4 linked regions of the Homo sapiens genome follow. The protein of the gene in region 4 purifies or fractionates together with the protein of the main gene of each other region. This does not show direct contact. Each region holds a gene or a part of one and is shown on either strand. Other genes may lie near its edges. The genes, in order: YME1L1, CLPX, AFG3L2 and PDP2.

Region 1 (4,876 bases), on a different chromosome or scaffold from region 4:
TTATTGGTGTGACCTCAGCCTGAAAATTATATAAATGAATAATTATTTATTTTATAGGTTCATATCGAGGGATTTTTTAAAAATACTTTGAATCATTCTCGTTTTCATTTTCTTTTAGGAATTCTTTTAGTTGGACCCCCAGGGACTGGAAAGACACTTCTTGCCCGAGCTGTGGCGGGAGAAGCTGATGTTCCTTTTTATTATGCTTCTGGATCCGAATTTGATGAGATGTTTGTGGGTGTGGGAGCCAGCCGTATCAGAAATCTTTTTAGTACGTTTTGGTGTATCTTTGATGCAGTGCTAAATTTTGTTAAGGGAAGTGTGTATCTTACCCTTTCTTTGCTAATTACTTTTTTTCTTCCTTTTTTTAATTTCTATTTTTTGGGGCCTCCAGCTTTGCATGCTAATTAGTTTTGATTGATAGTTAAAATAGCCATTGTGGGACCTTGGTTTGGGTAACTTACTATATGAATTATCGGAAGAGCTAGTGGAAGTGCAAGATGAAGTTGGAGGCTACCAAAAATCTCTTAGTGTTTTTTCATTTTATTCATCAATTTTGTAGTATGGAATTAAGGAGTAATTAGCTTCAAACCTGATTGTATATATTTGTATAGCTGGAAAGAATGAATGAATGCCCAACTGTTTTGTTTTATATCATTTCTTTGGTATAGTTTTTTCCCCCCTGAAGATACTATTTTTAAGTCAGTAAAAAATGACGTCCTTTTCTTTCAGTGAATATTTTTTGTTGGCTTTTGACAGTTGTATAGGATTTTAATATTTATCTCGTTTTGTTCAAAAGTGTTGACTTTCTTTCAGCTTATTTGAATGTTTTTTGTTTTCTTAGGGGAAGCAAAGGCGAATGCTCCTTGTGTTATATTTATTGATGAATTAGATTCTGTTGGTGGGAAGAGAATTGAATCTCCAATGCATCCATATTCAAGGCAGACCATAAATCAACTTCTTGCTGAAATGGATGGGTAATTGAGTCTTCTTTTTTCTTAGAATATGGTGATGCCTCCCAGCATTTGATATACGTAGAATTGATCTTATGCAAATTATTTCCATAAGGCATTTCATATCTAGAGATATGAAAAATGTGATGTGTATAGGAAACAGAGTAGTCCCTCATGCAAGAACTCAAGACAAGCTTTTTCTCTCAGTATTGTATTGTTTTCATTACTAACTGGATATTTGAATATCAACTCATCTTATTTAATTTATGGTATTTATATCCTTTCTCATTTATTGTTACACTTATGACAGAAAAACAATGATTTATGCCGAGACTAGTAGTCTATTTGAAGAAATACAGTTGTTTCTACATAATTTATGACTAACTTTGAGTGTTGTGGCAGATTTAAAGCTTACATCAATGTTCATAATATAAGAAGCAAGAGGTGATGTTGCTTTGAAAGAAGTATCTTAAAACTCAATATAAGACATTTTGAAACCACATAGGAAGCCCAGGAGCAAATAATTTGAATTGGTATACTTGAAAGTAATTTTTCAAAAATTAACCAGGCACCTAAGCTTTTTATATCAGGTTATCTTTTCCTGCATAGACCAGATAATTGTGAAGGTATGTAGTCAGAGATGAATTGGTGGTTTATTATCAGTTTCTTTTCTTGGCTGTTATTTGATTAATGAAGCTGGGCATGGTGGCTCACGCCTGTAATGCCAGGACTTTTGGAAGCCAAGGTGGGAGGATTGCTTGAGGCCAGGAGTTCAAAACCAGCCTGGTCAAGATAGCAAGACCCTATCTCTACTAAAAATAAAAACAGTCACCGGGCACAGTAGCTCAAGCCTATAATCCTAGCACTTTGGGAGGCTGAGGCGGGTGTATTGCTTGAGGTCAGGAGTTCAAGACCAACCTGGCCAACATGGTGAAACCCCGTCTTTACTAAAAATATAAGAATTAGCTGGGTGTGGTGGCAGGCGCCTGTAATCCTGGCTACTCAGGAAGCTGAGACATGAGAATTGCTTGAACCTGGGAGATGGAGGTTGCAGTGAGCACCATTGAACTCCAACCTGGGTGACAGTGAGACTCCATCTCCAAAAAAAAAAAAAAATAGTGGCTTGTACCTAGAAATTGGGGAGAAAAGATTTAAAAATAAATAAAAAATAAATTAGTCAGATATGTTGGCATGCACCTGTCATTCCAGCTACTTGAGAGGTTGAGGCAGAAGGTTCACTTCAACCCAGGAGTTTGAGGCAGCAGTGAGCTATGATCATACTGGTGCGCTTCAGCCTAGGCCACAAAGCGAGTCCTAGTCTCAAAAAAAGAAAACAAACCAGTTTTGTGTAGAGCATTTCTACATGTGTGCTGTGCTTCAGTGTTAGTAAAAGATACTATTTTTTTTCCAATATAGTTTTAAACCCAATGAAGGAGTTATCATAATAGGAGCCACAAACTTCCCAGAGGCATTAGATAAGTAAGTATTAAAAGAAGATTTTTGTGAAGTACTGTTACATGCTACAAAATTGTGCTAAAAGAAGTCCGTTGCAAAAGATCACATCAACACTGTATGATTCCATTTATATGCAATATCCAGAATAAGCAAATTCACAGAGACAAATTGGGTTAGCGGTTACCAGAGGTTAGGGAGAATGGGGAATGGCTGTCATTGGATATGGGATTTCTTTGTGGGGGATGGGAATATTCTAAAATTAGATTGTGGTGATGGTTGTACAATTCTGAATGTATTAAAAACCACTGAAGTATCCACTTTAAATTATGTGAATTACATCTCAATAAAACTTAAAATATTTATTTGTTATATGTCACAAAAGTTGTATGTAGAGAGGGTTTTTAAAATAAATTAACTGTAGTATTATAACTAGGTTTAAAGTTACTATGAAAAAATTTTACTGTAGAAGTTATTCGTATTTTCATTTGATCAGTAGTTTGTCACTGCCTAAGACTCTAGTCTAACATTCTGTACTTAGCAGTTGAGATGGATGTGTGGTTCTCATAATAGTTTGTTGTGGAATTATTTGTTCCTGGACTGAATTACCTGCATGCTTTTGTTTCTGAGGGGTAGGCTACCTAGGTACACACGTGTATCTAAATGAACCTTTGTTCTGCTTTCTGGTTATTGACACTGTTACTTGAGCCATGTTTTAAAGGAACTATCTGAATATTTATGTACAAAACTCCATCTGCGCTCTGGCTGCCATTGGCTTCCCAGTCACGTCATTAGGGTGTCAGTCCTGTTGAATTTGAGCTTAAATAGTTTTAATTTATATTTTCCTTTTGCATTCTTCCTGTAGTGCCTTAATACGTCCTGGTCGTTTTGACATGCAAGTTACAGTTCCAAGGCCAGATGTAAAAGGTCGAACAGAAATTTTGAAATGGTATCTCAATAAAATAAAGTTTGATCAATGTAAGTATCAAAACAAACATTTGTCATTTCTGTAAAGTGGTAATATACCACTCACCCTGTTTGTGGTCCTTTCATGATACATGTATTAACATTAAAAGACCAGTTCATTTTTGTCTTTTTTTTTTCCATTAGTATGTTCGTTTAAAAGTCCATTCCTTAGTGTATATCCAGGAGATTCTATTGTTTTGAACCCTGAGTCTAAAGAAAGGTTTTTTTAGAGTATTCAGACAGATAATATTTGAGGATACATACATATACATACACACACACACATTTTTTTAAGATGAATGTAAAATGCAAAATAATTTAAAAAAGCTGCAGAAACAGTAACTCATGATATAGTCAGTGTGGGGCCAAAAGAGAAGAAAGCAAATTATAAAACAAAACACATGGAAATTTATTACTCACTTGAGTAATAAATGAAATTATTAAAGCTGCAGTAGTTTCAGAGATAGCTGTATCAATTCATTAAACTATACATGTTTCCTATAAGGGCAGCTTTTATGTCTAAAGTATTTCCAGATGAAATTCAGAGAAAAAGTGACTAAACTATGGCTCAGAATAGCTAGCTATTTTCTTTTTTCCCTTGGAATGTGAGGTGTTTTTTTTTTTTGGTTTTTTTTTGAGACAAGAGTTTTGCCCTTTTTGCCTAGGCTGGAGTGGAGTGGCACAATCTTGGCTTACTGCAACCTCCACCTCCCGGGTTCAAGTGATTCTTCTGCCTCAGCCTTCTGAATAGCTGGGATTACAGGTGCATGCCACCATGCCCAGCTAATTTTTGTATTTTTAGTAGAGATGGGGTTTCACCATGTTGGCCAGGATGGTCTCCAACTCCTGTCCTTAGGTGATCTGCCTGCCCCAGCCTCCCAAAGTGCTGGGATTACAGGCATGAGCCAACGCACCCAGTTGGAATGTGAGTTCTTTGTGAAGAGCTTTCTTTTACCTGTTTTAGACTTATTAGCGTTGTGTTCTCTTTTTACATTAGCCGTTGATCCAGAAATTATAGCTCGAGGTACTGTTGGCTTTTCCGGAGCAGAGTTGGAGAATCTTGTGAACCAGGCTGCATTAAAAGCAGCTGTTGATGGAAAAGAAATGGTTACCATGAAGGAGCTGGAGTTTTCCAAAGACAAAATTCTAATGGGTAGGTTTCCTTTCTTTTTTTTCTGTCTTTTACTTTTCATTGTGTTAGATAATTCATTTAGGGGCAAATACTCTATTCAAACAGCTAAAGCCATGGCTATGTTGAATCTAATCTTACTCTAAAACTTCAGTGTCTGGGTTTTCAAGATTTGTAATAAATGATTTTACAAAATTCCCAACTTAACATCAAACAAATGCCATTAAACTGTAACATTTTCTTGACAATAATCTTGTCAGTGATACAGAACTGATTTTATAGTGTACCACATTTATTAGTTTTGTCTCTTTCTTAGAAAACCTTTTTTTCTGACTGGAAAGCTTTAAAAAGTGATGGGAACATGAAAATATATACT
Region 2 (4,876 bases), on a different chromosome or scaffold from region 4:
ACAGGAGGTGGGATACTCATTGTTTGTTCCCCCAAGGTAAACAAATATGTAATATTTTCATCCTCTTTCTTAGAGTTAGAAATAAGAAGACGGGAGGATGAGTACAGATTTACAAGTAAGTGACTTCAGGTCCTCCTCTGTAATCATTCTTCCTTTTGACATTTATTTCAGTGAAGTGTTTCAGCAGTAACAGTGATAGACATGTATGTATTTGCTTGTGTATTACCAAGAAAGATACGTATTATCTAAATGTGTTTATCCTACATGGTATATATAACTTTGGAATAGTTTTTCATAGCTAATTTGTGTCGTTTCCATATGTTGGGTTATTTTTTATTTTTTCTATCAAACTACAATTAGAGTTGGCCTGCTTCTTGTGGGTCACAGGAATTTGGGGGAGGCAGATTATTTTCTAGCTACTCTTTGCCAGAAAGCACACTGTTTTTTGGTTTTTTTTGTATTTATGAAACTTACAGTCTTACAAATTATGAGTAAGTCTTAATTCACTGTTTCCAGCCCCAGATTGCCCCTACAAGCATCAGATGGTCCGATGGAGGGTGTGGAAGGACTTGATAGACCAAGGAGAGTGGCCTTTCTGTTGTGTTCCACCTATTCCTTTGGAGGTGGATATAGTTAGTTGCTGCATTGAGGGTGGAGGTTCCAGGGGTGTCATAGAAAGATTCACATGGCCTTTTGTTTTAGTAATTGAAATAAAGAAAATTAGCTAAGTTTGATGTTTTTACATTTGCCTTTGAACCAAGTAGTATTATATATCCACTATTTGAAGTGTACTATATATAGGATGAGCCATGAGAATATAACTTGTGTACCAACTTGGGCATGACATTTATCACATGTAATAAAATTACATTATCCCCAGTTATTTTTAAATTTATAGAAATACTGATTATACCATGCGTGGTAAAATTAAGAAATACAGTAAGTGCAATAGAATTAGATTGTATATAAGAATGTAAAATCTAAATAATAACCTTTAGGTATATATGTAATTTATTTCATAATAAAAAAATATATTCAGATATGCAGTCAATACCATACTCATAAATTGTGTTGACAGCTAGTTAACCTATACTAAATTAGTAAAGAAAGTCTGTAGTGCATATTTTGAAAGACATGTCATGTAATATATGTAGTGATTTAATGTTATTTAAATGTTAACAAGTAACAGTATTTAAGAACTTATGTAAAAGATTGACTTAGAAACAAATATTTCAAAAGCTTAAATTTATTGTCATGTGCAGTTTTGTTGTGTTTTACATGGGATTTTAAGTTCTAAAGTTAGGTTGTTAACTAACACTGGCTGGGGGTGTTAGACCCTAACACTGGTCTAGGGTTTTAGACCAAAATCATGTACAATAAGATTAATTCTTATAAGTCCCTTTGGAAGTCAAATTTTAGAGACCAACATACAGCTTTTAGGAGGACTGACACAATTGGCTTTTTTTCTCCATCTTTGGAATATAATGTTGTTTTTTAAGTTGAGCACCAGATGAAATACTTTGTTTGCGTTTAAGGGCTGTGTTGTGTGAATAATTAAACACTAGGGAAATGGTAATAATAATACCAGATTCTTCTGTAACACTTATAAAACTATCTGCCAGGTATTGTTCTAAGTGTTTTGCATATATTCATTTAATCTCCCCTAAACCCATGAGACAGAAACTATTATTTTTATCTCCATTTTAGAAGTAAGAAAACTGAAACACAGAAATTTTAAGTAATTTGTCCGTGGCCACACAGCTGGTGAGCTCTGTGCAGCTAACTACTACACTAGCCTGCTTGCTCATGGTCCTCATTTTAGAGAGCTGTGCTTACACAGTGAGAGATGCACAAACAGGGACTAACTGAAAGAATCGGAGAGTTGTCTCAAGTTTGTTCTAAGGCATATACTCATAAAATGGGATGATGGATATCATCTGTATCATTTAAATTATTTCTTTTTTAAACTTAAATCATTAAATAAGTTAAATACATAGATTATGTGGTTCCACTGTAATTAATATGCCCCTTGCAATTTTGTTCATTTATTCATCTAAATCGTGTGTGTGTGTGTGTGTGTGTGTGTGTGTGTGTGAGAGAGAGAGAGAGAGAGAGAGAGAGAGAGAATGAGTGAATGACAAGCACCTGCTGGCCTTGCTGATCTGAAGCTACATCTAAATCATTTTTTCCCTTTGGGCAGAGCTAAACTTAACCCAAGCCCCTTCCTATGTTATCACAATCCCTAACCAGATTTTGCTGAAATTTTAAAAAGTACTTTGCTAGTGACAATTTAACTATCCTCATACAGCAGACTGAGTTTTCTTGGCTGATGTGGATTATAATGAGGCACAACATTGTGAATTATTCACTAATTATTAACCCTCAAAGGTAGCACAATTTAATCCAGATGTTTATGGAATGCTTATTGTTTTTGATGAATAGAATAACCCTTTACCTTAAGTATGAAGATAGTTTGAAAGTGACAGCCAGATGGAATAGGACTATGATAATAGATATGTCTGCCAAACTATTATTCTATCAGTTTAATTAAAATAATCATTGGAAAGTCTGATTTTCTGAATCAATTTCTTAGAAAATAAAATTTAGGCCAGGCGCGGTGTCTCATGCCTGTAATCCCAGTACTTGGGGAGGCTGAGGCGGGTGGATCACCTGAAGTCAGCAGTTCAAGACCAGCCTGGGCAACATGGCAAAACCCCGTCTCTACTAATAATACAAAAATTAGCCAGGTGTGGTGGCGTGTGCCTGTAATCCCAACTACTCGGGATGCTGAGGCAGGAGAATCACTTGAACCCAGGAGGCGGAGGTTGCAGTGAGCTGAGATTGCACCACTGCACTCCAGCCTGGACAACAGAGAGAGACTCTGTCTCAAAATAAAAAAAAAAAAAAGAAAAGAAAATGTAAAAATAAATTCAGGAAATATAAACAAGTATGTTGTGATAACAGGTACTCAAATGCTAAGAACCAAGAACAATCTGAATATTTACAAATCTGGATAATCTTTCCTTCAGCCAAGAGAAAGTGAGAATAAAGATTTATTTATTTCATTTTTATTTTGTTTTGTTTTATTTTATTTTAATTTTATTTTTTTGAGACAGAGTCTTACTCTGTTGCCCAGGCTGGAGTGCAGTGGCGTGATCTTGGCTCACTGCAACCCCCGCCTCCCGGGTTCAAGCAATTCTCCTGCCTCGGCCTCCCAAGTAGCTGGGACTATAGGCGCGTGCCATCACATCTGGCTAATTTTTTATTTTTAGTAGAGATGGGGTTTCACCGTGTTGGCCAGGCTGTTCTCAAACTCCTGACCTCAGGTGAGCCACCATGCCTAGCCTAAAGATTTATTTTTGTAGGAATCTGGCTGATAAACTGATAACCTCACTAGCAATGTCAGTCCCATCTAGTCATTAGCAATGTCAGTCACATCTAGTTAAGTGTTATGTCTCTAATAAAGGAAATAGAAAGATCCAGTACAGGTCCAATAAAATTAGAGATTTAGATAGGGCCAGAGATAGTAAGGTGTATCATATTTGGTTTCTCTAGTAGATTTTATTGATTAGGAAACAGGAACATAAAGTTTATATGACTTGCCCTAGATCATGTAGCTTCTACTTAGAGACAAAGGAAGGTCCAGAGCTAAAGCTTTCTAACTCCTGGCTCTGCTCTTCTGTTGTATTGCCTTCCCTTGGGTAAAGGAGTATTCTTACATATTTATATAAATAAGGACAGTAAAAAAAATCAATTTCCTTTGCTTGAGGTTCTTTATATAATCATTGTGTGCTATATGTTTGTCACTAGATAATTTGAGATTTTTCTCCTTTGTAGGTAAGACAGAATGTCAAAATACTTAAATTTTTCTATGTCGATATTTAGTTTTAGATAAAAGTTTTTATGGGACATTTTCTTCAAGTAAATTCAAATGAAGCTCAAGTAATTCCTTTGGCATTTTTTTCAGAATTGCTTCAGATTGCTGGAATTAGCCCACATGGTAATGCTTTAGGAGCATCAATGCAGCAACAGGTAAATCAACAAATACCTCAGGAAAAACGAGGAGGTGAAGTATTGGATTCTTCTCATGATGACATAAAACTTGAAAAAAGTAATATTTTGCTGCTTGGACCAACTGGGTCAGGTAAATAACTTGCTGAGAAAATTTACTACTCATTTTAAAAATCAGAATATAAATGATTCTATAACCTGTATCTTGCGATTGAAGTATTACGGCTCTTGAGAAGAAAATCTAAGGCCAGTCATCTAGATACACTATCAGTATTCCTGCATAGAATACAAACTGGATTTGAGGCATTGGTGTTGCCCTTCAGGCCAATCCCTAACATCTTCACAGGAATAATAAAATAAAAAACAGCTATATCTAAATAATAATAGATCGGATGTAGTGGCTCACACCTGTAATCCCAGCATTTTGGGAGACAAAGGTGGGAGGATCACTTGAGGCCAAGAGTTTGAGACCAGCCTAGGCAACAGAGCAAGACTCTATCTCTATAAAAAATAAAGTATTAGTTGGGCGTGGTAGCACATGCCTGTAGTCCTGAGGCTGAGGCAGGAGGATCACTTAAGCCCAGGAGATTGAGGCTGGAGTGAGCCATGATCACAGGCTGCACTCCAGCCTGGGTGACAGAGCAAGAACCTGTCTCTAAAAAAAATAATAGCAGAGGAAGGATGTAGCAATTGACAACTTTTTATTATATACTACTAAAATTTATTTTGCATTTTTATTGAAAAATTGTGTGCCAATATATTTTCAGTAAACTTTTAGTGACTGTTTCTATTTGTAGGTAAAACTCTGCTGGCACAAACCCTAGCTAAATGCCTTGATGTCCCTTTTGCTATCTGTGACTGTACA
Region 3 (4,876 bases), on a different chromosome or scaffold from region 4:
ATCCCAGCTGCTCAAGAGGCTGAGGCAGGAGAATCGCTTCAACCTGGGAGGTGGAGGTTGCAGTGAGCCGAGATCGTGCCATTGCACTCCAGCCTGGACAAGAGTGAAACTCTATCTCAAAAAAAAAAAAGTGTATTGTTTGAGCAAACACATCTTTCTTTGAAGTTAAGTTCATCATTGGTCGTTAGATTTCTACTTCATTTGTGAAACTTTTAAAGAAGAAAATAAGCAAAATTTTAAAAATACCTTAAGGTTTTATTACAAAGCCTAGAAAAAATATCATTTGACCATATTATCTACCTCCTCACAGTATTTGGATATGGTAGTGTGGTAGTATGTCTATAAATAAGAGAGGATACTGTTTGTGGGTAGTCAGTGGAAATAAAAACAAATTCACAGTTAGGTTTTAAGTTGCACGTCCAACCATGCTAAAAATGTACTGATTTGTACATGAAAGTAGAAGTCAGAAGTTGGGTTTATTAATTATTTGAGCTCAAAAACCAATTTTACTTGTAAAGAGTAAAAGAATTACATAAATCAGGAGTGTGGTGTTGGTGTCTTCTTAAATTATTTAAGTAAACCTTAGCAGATTTATTAGTATATTCCTAGCCCAAGTCACCCTTTACATACTGTTAGACTAAAGGTCTAAAAATCAGCCCTAGGAAAAAAAGGAAATATTTTAAATTTCACATTCTTACCAAATTTTTTGAAACAAAATTATTTTTGATAATCTTTTTATTCTTACTAATATAAAAATGTTCTACCATAGCTCAGATGTTTAAGTAATATTTAATATATATCAATAAGATTTAGAGACAGAGTTATATCTTGTAATTATTTGTGGATACACAATTTACTTTTCTGGAATTCTCATTAAATGTAATTTCTTTTTTCATATCTGAAGGGTGCCATTCTCACTGGTCCTCCAGGCACTGGGAAGACGCTGCTAGCTAAGGCCACAGCCGGAGAAGCCAATGTCCCCTTCATCACCGTTAGTGGATCTGAGTTTTTGGAGATGTTCGTTGGTGTGGGCCCTGCTAGAGTGAGTCTCATTCTGTTCGGATGGTACAGCTTCCTTGCACCCACCACTTCACCACAGATGGAGGCACTTGCTAGAGATGGCCCTTCCCCCTAGAGTGCTAGAGTGACCTCTCACCAGTCCCTGGCCTGAGCTCTCCTCCAGGCCTAAGACTTCAGCAAGGCCTGTGACTTCCACCCCACCTTCCCTCGCACCAGCTAGGACTGCAGTCTGCTACCTATAGTAGACCAATTTAAAGAATTGACGGCTGGGCGCGGTGGCTCATGCCTGTAATTCCAGCACTTTGGAAGGCTGAAGTGGGTGGAACGCTTGAAGTCAGGAGTTCGAGACCAGCCTGGCCAACATGGCGAAACCCTGTCTGTACTAAAAATAGAAAAATTAGCCAGGCGTGGTCGCGCATGCCTATAATCCCAGCTATTTCGGAGGCTGAGGCAGGAGAATCTCTTGAACCCAGGCGGCAGAAGTTGCAGTGAACCAAGATGACACCACTGCATTCCAGCCTGGGCAACAGAGTGAGACGCTGTCTCAAAAAAAAAAAAAAAATTTTGCTTTATTTGTGGATTTTTTTTTTTTTTGGTGACAACATTTATTGAGATATAATTGACATACCAAACAATTGATCCCTGTAAAGTATACAGTTCAGTAGCTTTTAGTAATTCACAGATTTGTGCAACCATCACCACAATCAGTTTTACAACATTTCCATTACATCAAGAAGAAATCGTGGCCGGGCGTGGTGGCTCACACTTGATATCCCAGCACTTTGGGAGGCCAAGGCAGGCGGATCAGGAGGTCTGGAGATCGAGACCATCCTGGCTAACATGGTGAAACACCATCTCTACTAAAAAAACAAAACCAAAATTAGCCATGCGTGGTGGCGGGCGCCTGTAGTCCCAGCTACTTGGGAGGCTGAGGCAGGAGAATGGCGTGAACCTGGGAGGCAGAGCTTGCAGTGAGCTGAGATCACGCCACTGCACTCCAGCTTGGGTGACAGAGTGAGACTCGTCTCAAAAAAAAAAAAAATATGTAAATCGGGAGTCCTAAGCAAACTACCCAAAGGAATTTCCTAGTACAGACATTCCATGTAAATGAAATTATACAATATGTGGTTTTTTTATGCCTGATTTCTTTCACTTAACATGTTTTTGAATGGTAACTCCATGTTTAACATTTTAAGGAACCACCAGACTGTTTTCCAAACTACTTGCCCATTTTCCATCCCTACCAGCAATGTGTAAGGGGTTCTGATGTTTCCCCGCCCTTACCAACACTTTGATGATAGCCACCTTAGTGGGTGTGATGTAGTATCTCGTGGTTTTGATTTGCATTTCCATGATGAGGAGTGATGTTGAACATCTTGTATATGCTTATTGGCCATTTGTATATTTGTATATCTTCCTTGGAGAGTTGTCTATTCAGATCCTTTGCTCATTTTTTAATTGGGTTTTTTTGGTTGTTGAATTGTAAGAGTTCTTTTTTTTTTTTTTTAATTTTTTTTGAGATGGAGTCTTGCTCTGTCGCCCAGGCTGGAGTGCAGCGGCATAACCTCTGCCTCCCGGGTTCAAGTGATTCTGCCTCAGCCTCCCTAGTAGCTGGGATTGCAGGCACCCACCACCATGCCCAGCTAATTTTTGTATTTTTAGTAGAGATGGGGTTTCACTATGTTGGCCAGGCTGGTATTGAACTCCTCACTTCAGGTGATGCACCCCCTGCCTTGCCCTCCTAAAGTGCTGGGATTACAGGCGTGAGCCACCTTGTCCGGCCTCACCTTCACATCTATTTCACACTTTGCTGTTGTTGTGCAGATAAGTCATAGAAAAATAGGGAATGAGGGGGAGTTGGGTGTTAATGATGATGGGCCATGAGATATAAAGTGGATGGGGGGAAATTGAAGACAGGAGAGGAGCTGTGGGGGGTGGTGGGGAAGGGTGGGCCTGGTGGGTTGCAGAGCTGAGAAGTGGTAAAGAGTTGGCGTGAGATACCTGAGTGTGTCTGTGGGTCCAGATGATAGGAGGGGGTGCTCAGAGAGTAGATGACTTGAAGATGGTGGTTTAAAAGGCAACCTTGGCAGTGCTGGTCTTGTCAGAGTGAAGTAAAAGGTGAATGAAGGGGTGGTCAGGGAACTGAGAGACCGAGAGCCACATGGATGGAAATCACTGAGGACATCATGCCTAGTGGCAGTCAGGCTGGGGGAGACCCATGGCACAGTGGGGTGGAGTGCCTGCCACAAGGCCTGAGCCTCAGCAAGCAGGGGCTTTTCCAGCAGTTATTTTGGCAGCAGCAGTGGGGTGTGAGGTGGACCCCAGCTCCAGTTAGCCTGTAGGGGAAGATGCAGACTCCTGCTTAAGGCTTGCTGGAATGGCTGAGTTCCTGTTCATGCCGGGATGGGATGGATGTACTATGAAGGTGTGGGTCTGTAGGTCACAGATCTGGAATTCAGAGGGGAGGCTGGAGAAGGATACCAGTTATTTTAGGGGATGTGTTCAGAGCAGTGTAGGAATGAACATCCAGAAATCCAGGCAGGAAGACCTGGACTTCTGTCCAGTGAAGTGGGGGGGGGGGGGTGGGAGTGGGCAGGTGGAGAGTTGTCTCTGATTCTCCTTGAAGGGGCAGGTGACTGATGGTGAGGTGCTGAGTGGCTCTTCCTCCTCTTCCTGACTGCAGGTTTGTCTGAGGGTATGTGCTATCAGGATGGTCTGTGGTGGGGTGGGTGGCAGACGAAGGCTGTCACCCCCTCTTTGGGGATGAGCTGATGGGCTTGGATGGTCTTTGGCTTCACTGTATATGTGTGATTGCATAGACTCCTTAGTAGCCTCAGCTTGTTAATAACTGTGTTAGGCATGAAATGTGAACTCTAGAGAAGTCTGAACTTTTCAACTGAATGTAAAGTTTACAGCTCTACTGTGTTGTCTTTGTTTAGGTATATATGTAATGTTAATTTGTTGATGTTACAAAAATAGCAGATATTATCAGTGTTTATTACATATACAGTAATTTATGGGATCTGAGAAAGATTTGCTCACCTTAAGTCGGTTACCCAGGTTACTCCTCATTTGCTGCTGCTTTGCTACTTGTAACTCTTTTAAAAAATGTACCTTACAGTGTGTATCACAAAAAGATTGTCTGCACATGGGACGGGAAGCTGAAGATTTATTTCATTTTTTTTTTTTTTTTTTTTTTTTGAGACAGAATTTCGCTCTTGTTGCCCAGGCAGGAGTGCAATGGCTCAGTCTCAGCTCACTGCAACCTCTGCCTCCCAGGTTCAAGCGATTCTCCTGCCTCAGCCTCCTGAGTAGCTGGGATCACAGGCACGCGCCACCATGCCTGCCTAATTTTGTATTTTTAGTAGAGATGGGGTTTCTCCATGTTGGTCAGGCTGGTCTCGAACTCCTGACCTCAGGTGATCCACCAGCCTCGGCCTCCCACAGTGCTGGGATTACAGGCATGAGCCACTGTGCCCGGCCGATTTATTTCATTTCTTATTCAGAGAATACATAATATTCTCTGGTCAGGTGACTCTCTTTCTGTTTTTGCCAAGGTCCGAGACTTATTTGCCCTTGCTCGGAAGAATGCCCCTTGCATCCTCTTCATCGATGAAATCGATGCGGTGGGAAGGAAGAGAGGAAGAGGCAACTTTGGAGGGCAGAGTGAGCAGGAGAACACACTCAACCAGCTGCTGGTGGAGATGGATGGTGAGTGGTCAAGGCTTTTGTATCTTTAACTGCACTTTTGTTTTTTTTTTTGAGATGGAGTCTGACTCTGTCGTCCAGGCTGAAGTGAGTGGTGTGATTTCGGCTCACTGCATCCTCTGACCCCTGGGTTCAAGCGATCCTCCTG
Region 4 (5,669 bases):
TTTTTTAGTTTGGGTCTGAAACAGTCCTCTTAATATGCAGGAAGAGAGATATTGCCAGTCCTGACTTTGAACTTCTGGAAAGGGCTAAGGGTGAGTGGAACTATAAATATACAAGGGCAAGTCTGACATGAGCAGTTTTATTGTGACCACGTCCTTGGGTCCAGGAGGCTGGCCAGGCTGCCCAGGTAAGCCAGGGTGTCTTCCTTCTGGAAAACCACACTCTCAGGGCTCCAAGTGGCTTTTTCTGGTTGTCTCCCATTTTTCTCTGTCTCCAGGGAAGGACTCCATCTGACTTACCATAGTTACAAGAGTTCTGTGAAAATAATTTATAAGGAAGCAGGTCATCACTGGAATGCCACAATGTTAGGACCAGAAGGGACGGAGGGATTATCTGGTGTCGGGGTTCGCTGTCTCTCTCAACCTACCAGCCGCCAGCCGTGCTGAGTTAATTGTCAGTAGCAGGCCAATATAATGGTCAGTTCAAAGCTTAATGGTTTGTGGGAAACCACTAAAGACTTTAGGGCAGGAGGCCGGGCGCGGTGGCTCACGCCTGTAATCCCAGCACTTTGGGAGGCGGAGGCGGGCGGATCACGAGGTCAGGAGATCGAGACCATCCCGGCTAAAACGGTGAAACCCCGTCTCTACTAAAAATACAAAAAATTAGCCGGGCGTAGTGGCGGGCGCCTGTAGTCCCAGCTACTTGGGAGGCTGAGGCAGGGGAATGGCGTGAACCCGGGAGGCGGAGCTTGCAGTGAGCCGAGATCCCGCCACTGCACTCCAGCCTGGGCGACAGAGCGAGACTCCGTCTCAAAAAAAAAAAAAAAAAAAAAAAAAAAAGACTTTAGGGCAGGAATTTGAGGGTTTTTTTGGTTTGTTTTTGTTTCTGTTTTTGTTTTTTTTGAGACAGACTCTCACTCTGTCTCCCAGGCTGGCGTGCAGTGGCATGATCTCACCTCAGTGCAACTTCCACCTCCCTGGTTCAAATGATTCTCATGCCTCAGCCTCCCAGGTAGCTGGGACTACAGGCGCGCACCACCACTCCCAGCTAATTTTTGTATTTTTAGTAGAGACGGTTTCGTGATGTTGGCCAGGCTGGTCTCAAACTCCTGACCTCAGGAGATCCCCCCGCCTCGGCCTCCCAAAGTGCTGGGATTACAGGCAGGAGCCACCGCACTCGGCCTTGGAATTTGAGTTTTAGAAGTGTCATTCTGCCAGGCGTGATGGCTCACGTCTGTAATCCCAGCACTTTGGGGAGGCTGAGGTGGGAGGATTGCTTGAGCCCGGCAGTTTGAGACCAGCCTGGGCAACATAGAAAGACCTTGTCTCTACCCACCAACCACGAGAAAAGGTGGGAGGGGCGTCATTCTGGCTGCTCTGCTCTGTGGTTAGGACCAAGTCAAAGGTGGAGGAGGGAAAACCGTAAAATCAAGTGAGAGGCTTGGAATAGGGTGGCTGCGTCGCCGGATGGATGAGTGGAGAGAGATTTAGGAGATAGGATTTACAGCATTAGATAACTGGAAAGAGAGGGTGAGGGAGAGGAAGGAGTCAAGATGCCTCCCAGGGTTTTGGCTTGGGTCTCTGGGCAGATGGTGGGGCCATTACTGGGTTAGGAGAGAAGAGAAAAAGCAAGTTTGGCAGAAAGCTGAGTTTGGGGTAAGTTATGTTTGAGGCGCCTGGGGGCCTCCAGAGGCAGGTGTCCAGGTGGCTGGACATCAGGGTGTGGCGCTCAAGAGAGGGTTCTGGAGTGGTCGACACCGAAGTGGAGAGGAAGCAGTGAGGTGTTCTAACAACGGTGAGGAATTGGGGAGGCCGCTGGGTTCGGGGTATGCAGAGTGTAGCGGCCACGTAGCTGGCGATCTCAGGCACGTGACTGCCTGGTCCTGTGGCCCCGCGCTCGAACACTTTCAGCACCCAGGCAGGGGGTAAGGGGCGGTGTTGCCCCCTCCCGGGTCCCGCCTTTCTGCCCGCCTCTCATCCTCTTTAGCCATTGGGCAATACCTCTGTCCATCAAGGGCCCGCCTCCGCAATTGAGCCAACCAGGGCTGGCGGGAGGGCGCTTCCTTCTGGAGCTGGGTCCTGACTAGGGACCGCCTGGGTGAGGTGAGGACCTGGTGGCCGCAGTTGTGGCACTGTGCGCAGGCGCTGAACTGACCGGACGGAGCGGGCGGCTGTGGCCTCGCCAGCTGGTGAGAAGCGGGCGAGGGTCCGAGGTAGGGAAGGTAACGAGCGGGGGATGTGGACACCTCTTTCCCCGCCAGGCCTCGCCGGCGCCTGACCCTCCCGGCCTGCGGCACCGGCTCAGGTGACTGGGCGGAGGGAGAGCTGAGGTGAGGGGGCGGGTCCGCGGCGGAGAGGGACCAGCTGGGCCTACGACCACGGTCACCCCACTCACGTGCGCGCGCCACGTGGGCCCGCGGGCTCGCCGAGGACCCTTGGCTGCCTACCGGGGCACCCCACTAGCTGCTCTGGCCTATCGAGCACCCCTTGGAGCTCTGTGTCCCGACTGCACGCCCCTGTTTTACAGGCTGGCAAGCCGGGGCTCAGAGGCACCAAGCGGGTCGCCCGGGGGCACCCAGCTGGGGTACGGCCGTGCCGGGGTTCTAGGGAGATCGGTTTTGGTGGGCTCCGGAGTCCATGCACTTAGCGATGAGGCTGAAGTCAGAGATTTGAACTTGGGACCTGTCTGTTTTCTTTAAGGATGCAAGAGGGTTTGCGTCCTGGCTGCGGTGTATCACCCTGCACCGCTGCCTGCCTTGACTGCAGGGCCGGAGCGTCAGGCGCCCTCTGCTCCCGGACAGACCGCCCCCGCACCGACTTCTGCGGGGTGGGCTGGCAGGGGGTGGGGGAGTGAAGGGACGGTCCTCAGTCCTGGGAACTCTTGAGGTCCCGACAAATGATCTCGAGATCCCGAGGGCAGGATTCATACATGAAAAGCTCATTATAATGGGTCAAGGTTTTGTTCTGTTTTTTTTTTTTTAATTTAATTTAATTTAATTTAATTTAATTTAATTTATTATATTCCAAGGAAAAGTACCACCAGGGCTAGTGAAGGGACTAGGAAACTCGTCACCCCCTTGAGGAGGCAGATGTGAAGCTTTTGGAAATCAGTTTGGCAATGAGTCTACACCCTTGGACCTACTGACTCCTTGTTTGGGAAATAACTAGGATAAAACCTAAGTAGAGAAAAGGTTACTGCATAAAGCAGTACAGTTTGGTGGGGTTTTGTTGTTGTTGTTGTTTTTAAAGAGACAGATCTGGCTCTGTCGCCCAGGCTGGAGTGCAGTGGTGTGATCATAGCTCACTGCAGTCTTGAAATCTTGGGCTCAAGCGATCCTCCCACCTCAGCCTCTTGAGTAGCTGGGACTACAGGCACTTACCACCATGCCCAGCTAATCTAAAAATTTTTGTAGAGATGGGGCACTTGCTGTATCACCCAGGGTGGTCTTAAACTCCCTAGCCTCAAGTGATCCTCTTGCCTTGGCCTCCCAAAATGCTGAGATTATAGGCATGAGCCACTGTGCCCAGTCCAGTTTGGTATTTTATATTAATAAATAGCAAGTAGTAGAAACAACCTCTAAATTTCCAGCCGTAAAGAATAGTTAAGTAAGTTGTGATTATTTATGTCAAAATGTAGCCATCAGATGTGAAAAAATACTCTTATCAGGAAAGCCAGATTCAAAGTTGGGGTTACAACTCTACAAAAATACGTACAGAATGACTGTGCGCAGTAGCTCCCACCTGTAATCTCAGCACTTTGGGAGGCCAAGGGCGGAAGATCGCTTGAGCCTAGGAGTTTGAGACCAGCCTGGAAAACACGGGGAGACCCTGTCTATTAGCTGGGCCTGGCGGCACATGCCTGTAGTCCCAGCTATGTAGGAGGCTGAGGCAGGAGGATCCCTTGAGGCCAGAAGGGCAAGGCTGCAGTGAGCCACGATCTTACCATTGCACTCTAGCCTGGGGACAGAGCCAGGCTCCATCTCAAAAACAAAACAAAACAAAAAAAAACCAAACAAAAAATACCCAGAATGACTTAGAGGGGTATATACCTAATGATGAAAATAATAGCTACTTTTTTTTTTTTAGCAGAAGCGTCATATTTTATTAAATTCTCACAAAACCTTCTAAGACTAATATTCCCATTCCACCAATAGATAACTGGAGTGTTACCTCATCAGCAGTGTGTCTGATGCTACACAAGATAGTATCACAGCTAGTGTGCTATTGGGCCTCTGAAAATGTCATATTTAGCCAGTATTTGAGGACTTAGTGTGTGCCGGGTACAGGGCCAGGCACTGGAAAGCTGTTGGTGAGTAAGGCAGCCATAGTTGCTTGAGTCATGGAGTTTATAGACTAGTGGGGAAATATACATGTATATAAAATTTAGTTTTTGAGACAGGGTCTTGCTCTGTTGCCCAGGCTGGAGTGCAGTGGCAGGAGCACAGCTCATTGCAGTCTTGACCTCCAGGGCTTAAGCAATCCTCTCACCTCAGCCTTACAAGTGAATGGGGCTATAGGTGTGCGCCACCATGCCCAACTAATTTGTAAAAAAATTTTTTGTAGAAACCAGGTCTCCTTATGTTGCCCAGGCTGGTCTTGGAACTCCTAGGCTCAAGTGATCCTCCCGCCTCAGCCTTTGGAGTGGTTACAGGTATGAGCCACTATGCCCGAAGCAGATTATTTATTTATTTATTTATTTTTGAGACGGAGTTTCGCTCTCGCCCAGGCTGGAGTGCAGTGGTGCAATCTTGGCTCACTGCAAACTCTGCCTCCTGGGTTCACGCCATTCTCCTGCCTCAGCCTCCTGAGTAGCTGGGACTACAGGCGCCCATCACTGCACCCAGCTAAATTTTTGTATTTTTAGTAGAGACGGGGTTTCACTGTGTTAGCCAGGATGGTCTCGATCTCCTGAACTCGTGATCAGCCCACCTCGGCCTCCCAAAGTGCTGGGATTACAGGCGTGAGCCACCGCGTCAGGCCTGTTTTTGTTTTCTTTGAGACAGGGTCTCACTCCCTCTCTAGTGAGGCCCAGGCTAGACTGCAGTGGCACAATCACTGCTTTCTGCAGCCTCAACTTACCAGGCTCAGATGATTCTCCTACCTCAGCCTCCCAAGTAGCTGTGACTATAGATACACACCACCATGCCTGGCAATTTTTTTATTTTTTTTATTTTTTTGGAGAGACAGGGTTTCACCATGTTGCCCAGGCTAGTCTCGAACTCCTGGGCTCAAGCTATCCACCCACCTTGGCCTCCCAAAGTGCTAGGATTACAGGCATGAGCCACCAGGCCTGGCCCCCGAAGCAGATATTTAAATGAACACTTATAGTCTGCTGGTGAGAGTGAGTTTAGTGTATTTTAAATAGTTTATTCTAAGTCATTTTTGTTCAGGATATTAGCAAATGTTTTCAGAAGTCAGTATTTTTAAGAAATTAAATTTGTGGCTGGGTGCTTTGGCTCACGCCTGTAATCCCAGCACTTTGGGAGGCCGAGGCAGGTGGATCACAAGGTCAGGAGATCGAGACCATCCTGGCTAACATGGTGAAACCCTGTCTCTACTAAACATACAAAAAATTGGCCAGGTGTGGTGGCGGGCGCCTGTAGTCCCAGCTACTCCAGAGTCTGAGGTAGGAGAATGGCATGAACCTGGGAGGCGGAGCTTGCAGTGAGCAG

Evidence for each region.
Region 1: the proteins of PDP2 (region 4) and YME1L1 purify together in Homo sapiens (affinity purification with mass spectrometry; one large-scale study listed by BioGRID and IntAct). This does not show direct contact.
Region 2: the proteins of PDP2 (region 4) and CLPX purify together in Homo sapiens (affinity purification with mass spectrometry; one large-scale study listed by BioGRID and IntAct). This does not show direct contact.
Region 3: the proteins of PDP2 (region 4) and AFG3L2 purify together in Homo sapiens (affinity purification with mass spectrometry; one large-scale study listed by BioGRID and IntAct). This does not show direct contact.

The regions. Positions count from the first base shown.
Region 1 is NC_000010.11:27,118,942-27,123,817, reverse strand, and holds part of YME1L1 (ATP-dependent zinc metalloprotease YME1L1), read left to right. Parts: intron 1-118; coding exon 119-271; intron 272-844; coding exon 845-977; intron 978-2,369; coding exon 2,370-2,432; intron 2,433-3,270; coding exon 3,271-3,383; intron 3,384-4,368; coding exon 4,369-4,524; intron 4,525-4,876. UniProt on the Homo sapiens protein: ATP-dependent metalloprotease that catalyzes the degradation of folded and unfolded proteins with a suitable degron sequence in the mitochondrial intermembrane region.
Region 2 is NC_000015.10:65,157,843-65,162,718, reverse strand, and holds part of CLPX (ATP-dependent clpX-like chaperone, mitochondrial precursor), read left to right. Parts: intron 1-73; coding exon 74-115; intron 116-3,967; coding exon 3,968-4,144; intron 4,145-4,808; coding exon 4,809-4,876. UniProt on the Homo sapiens protein: ATP-dependent chaperone that functions as an unfoldase.
Region 3 is NC_000018.10:12,352,860-12,357,735, reverse strand, and holds part of AFG3L2 (mitochondrial inner membrane m-AAA protease component AFG3L2), read left to right. Parts: intron 1-904; coding exon 905-1,042; intron 1,043-4,577; coding exon 4,578-4,731; intron 4,732-4,876. UniProt on the Homo sapiens protein: Catalytic component of the m-AAA protease, a protease that plays a key role in proteostasis of inner mitochondrial membrane proteins, and which is essential for axonal and neuron development.
Region 4 is NC_000016.10:66,878,455-66,884,123, forward strand, and holds the start of PDP2 ([Pyruvate dehydrogenase [acetyl-transferring]]-phosphatase 2, mitochondrial precursor), read left to right. Parts: upstream 1-2,060; 5' UTR 2,061-2,186; exon of another isoform or gene 2,187-2,327; intron 2,328-4,560; exon of another isoform or gene 4,561-4,648; intron 4,649-5,669. UniProt on the Homo sapiens protein: Mitochondrial enzyme that catalyzes the dephosphorylation and concomitant reactivation of the alpha subunit of the E1 component of the pyruvate dehydrogenase complex (PDC), thereby stimulating the conversion of pyruvate into acetyl-CoA.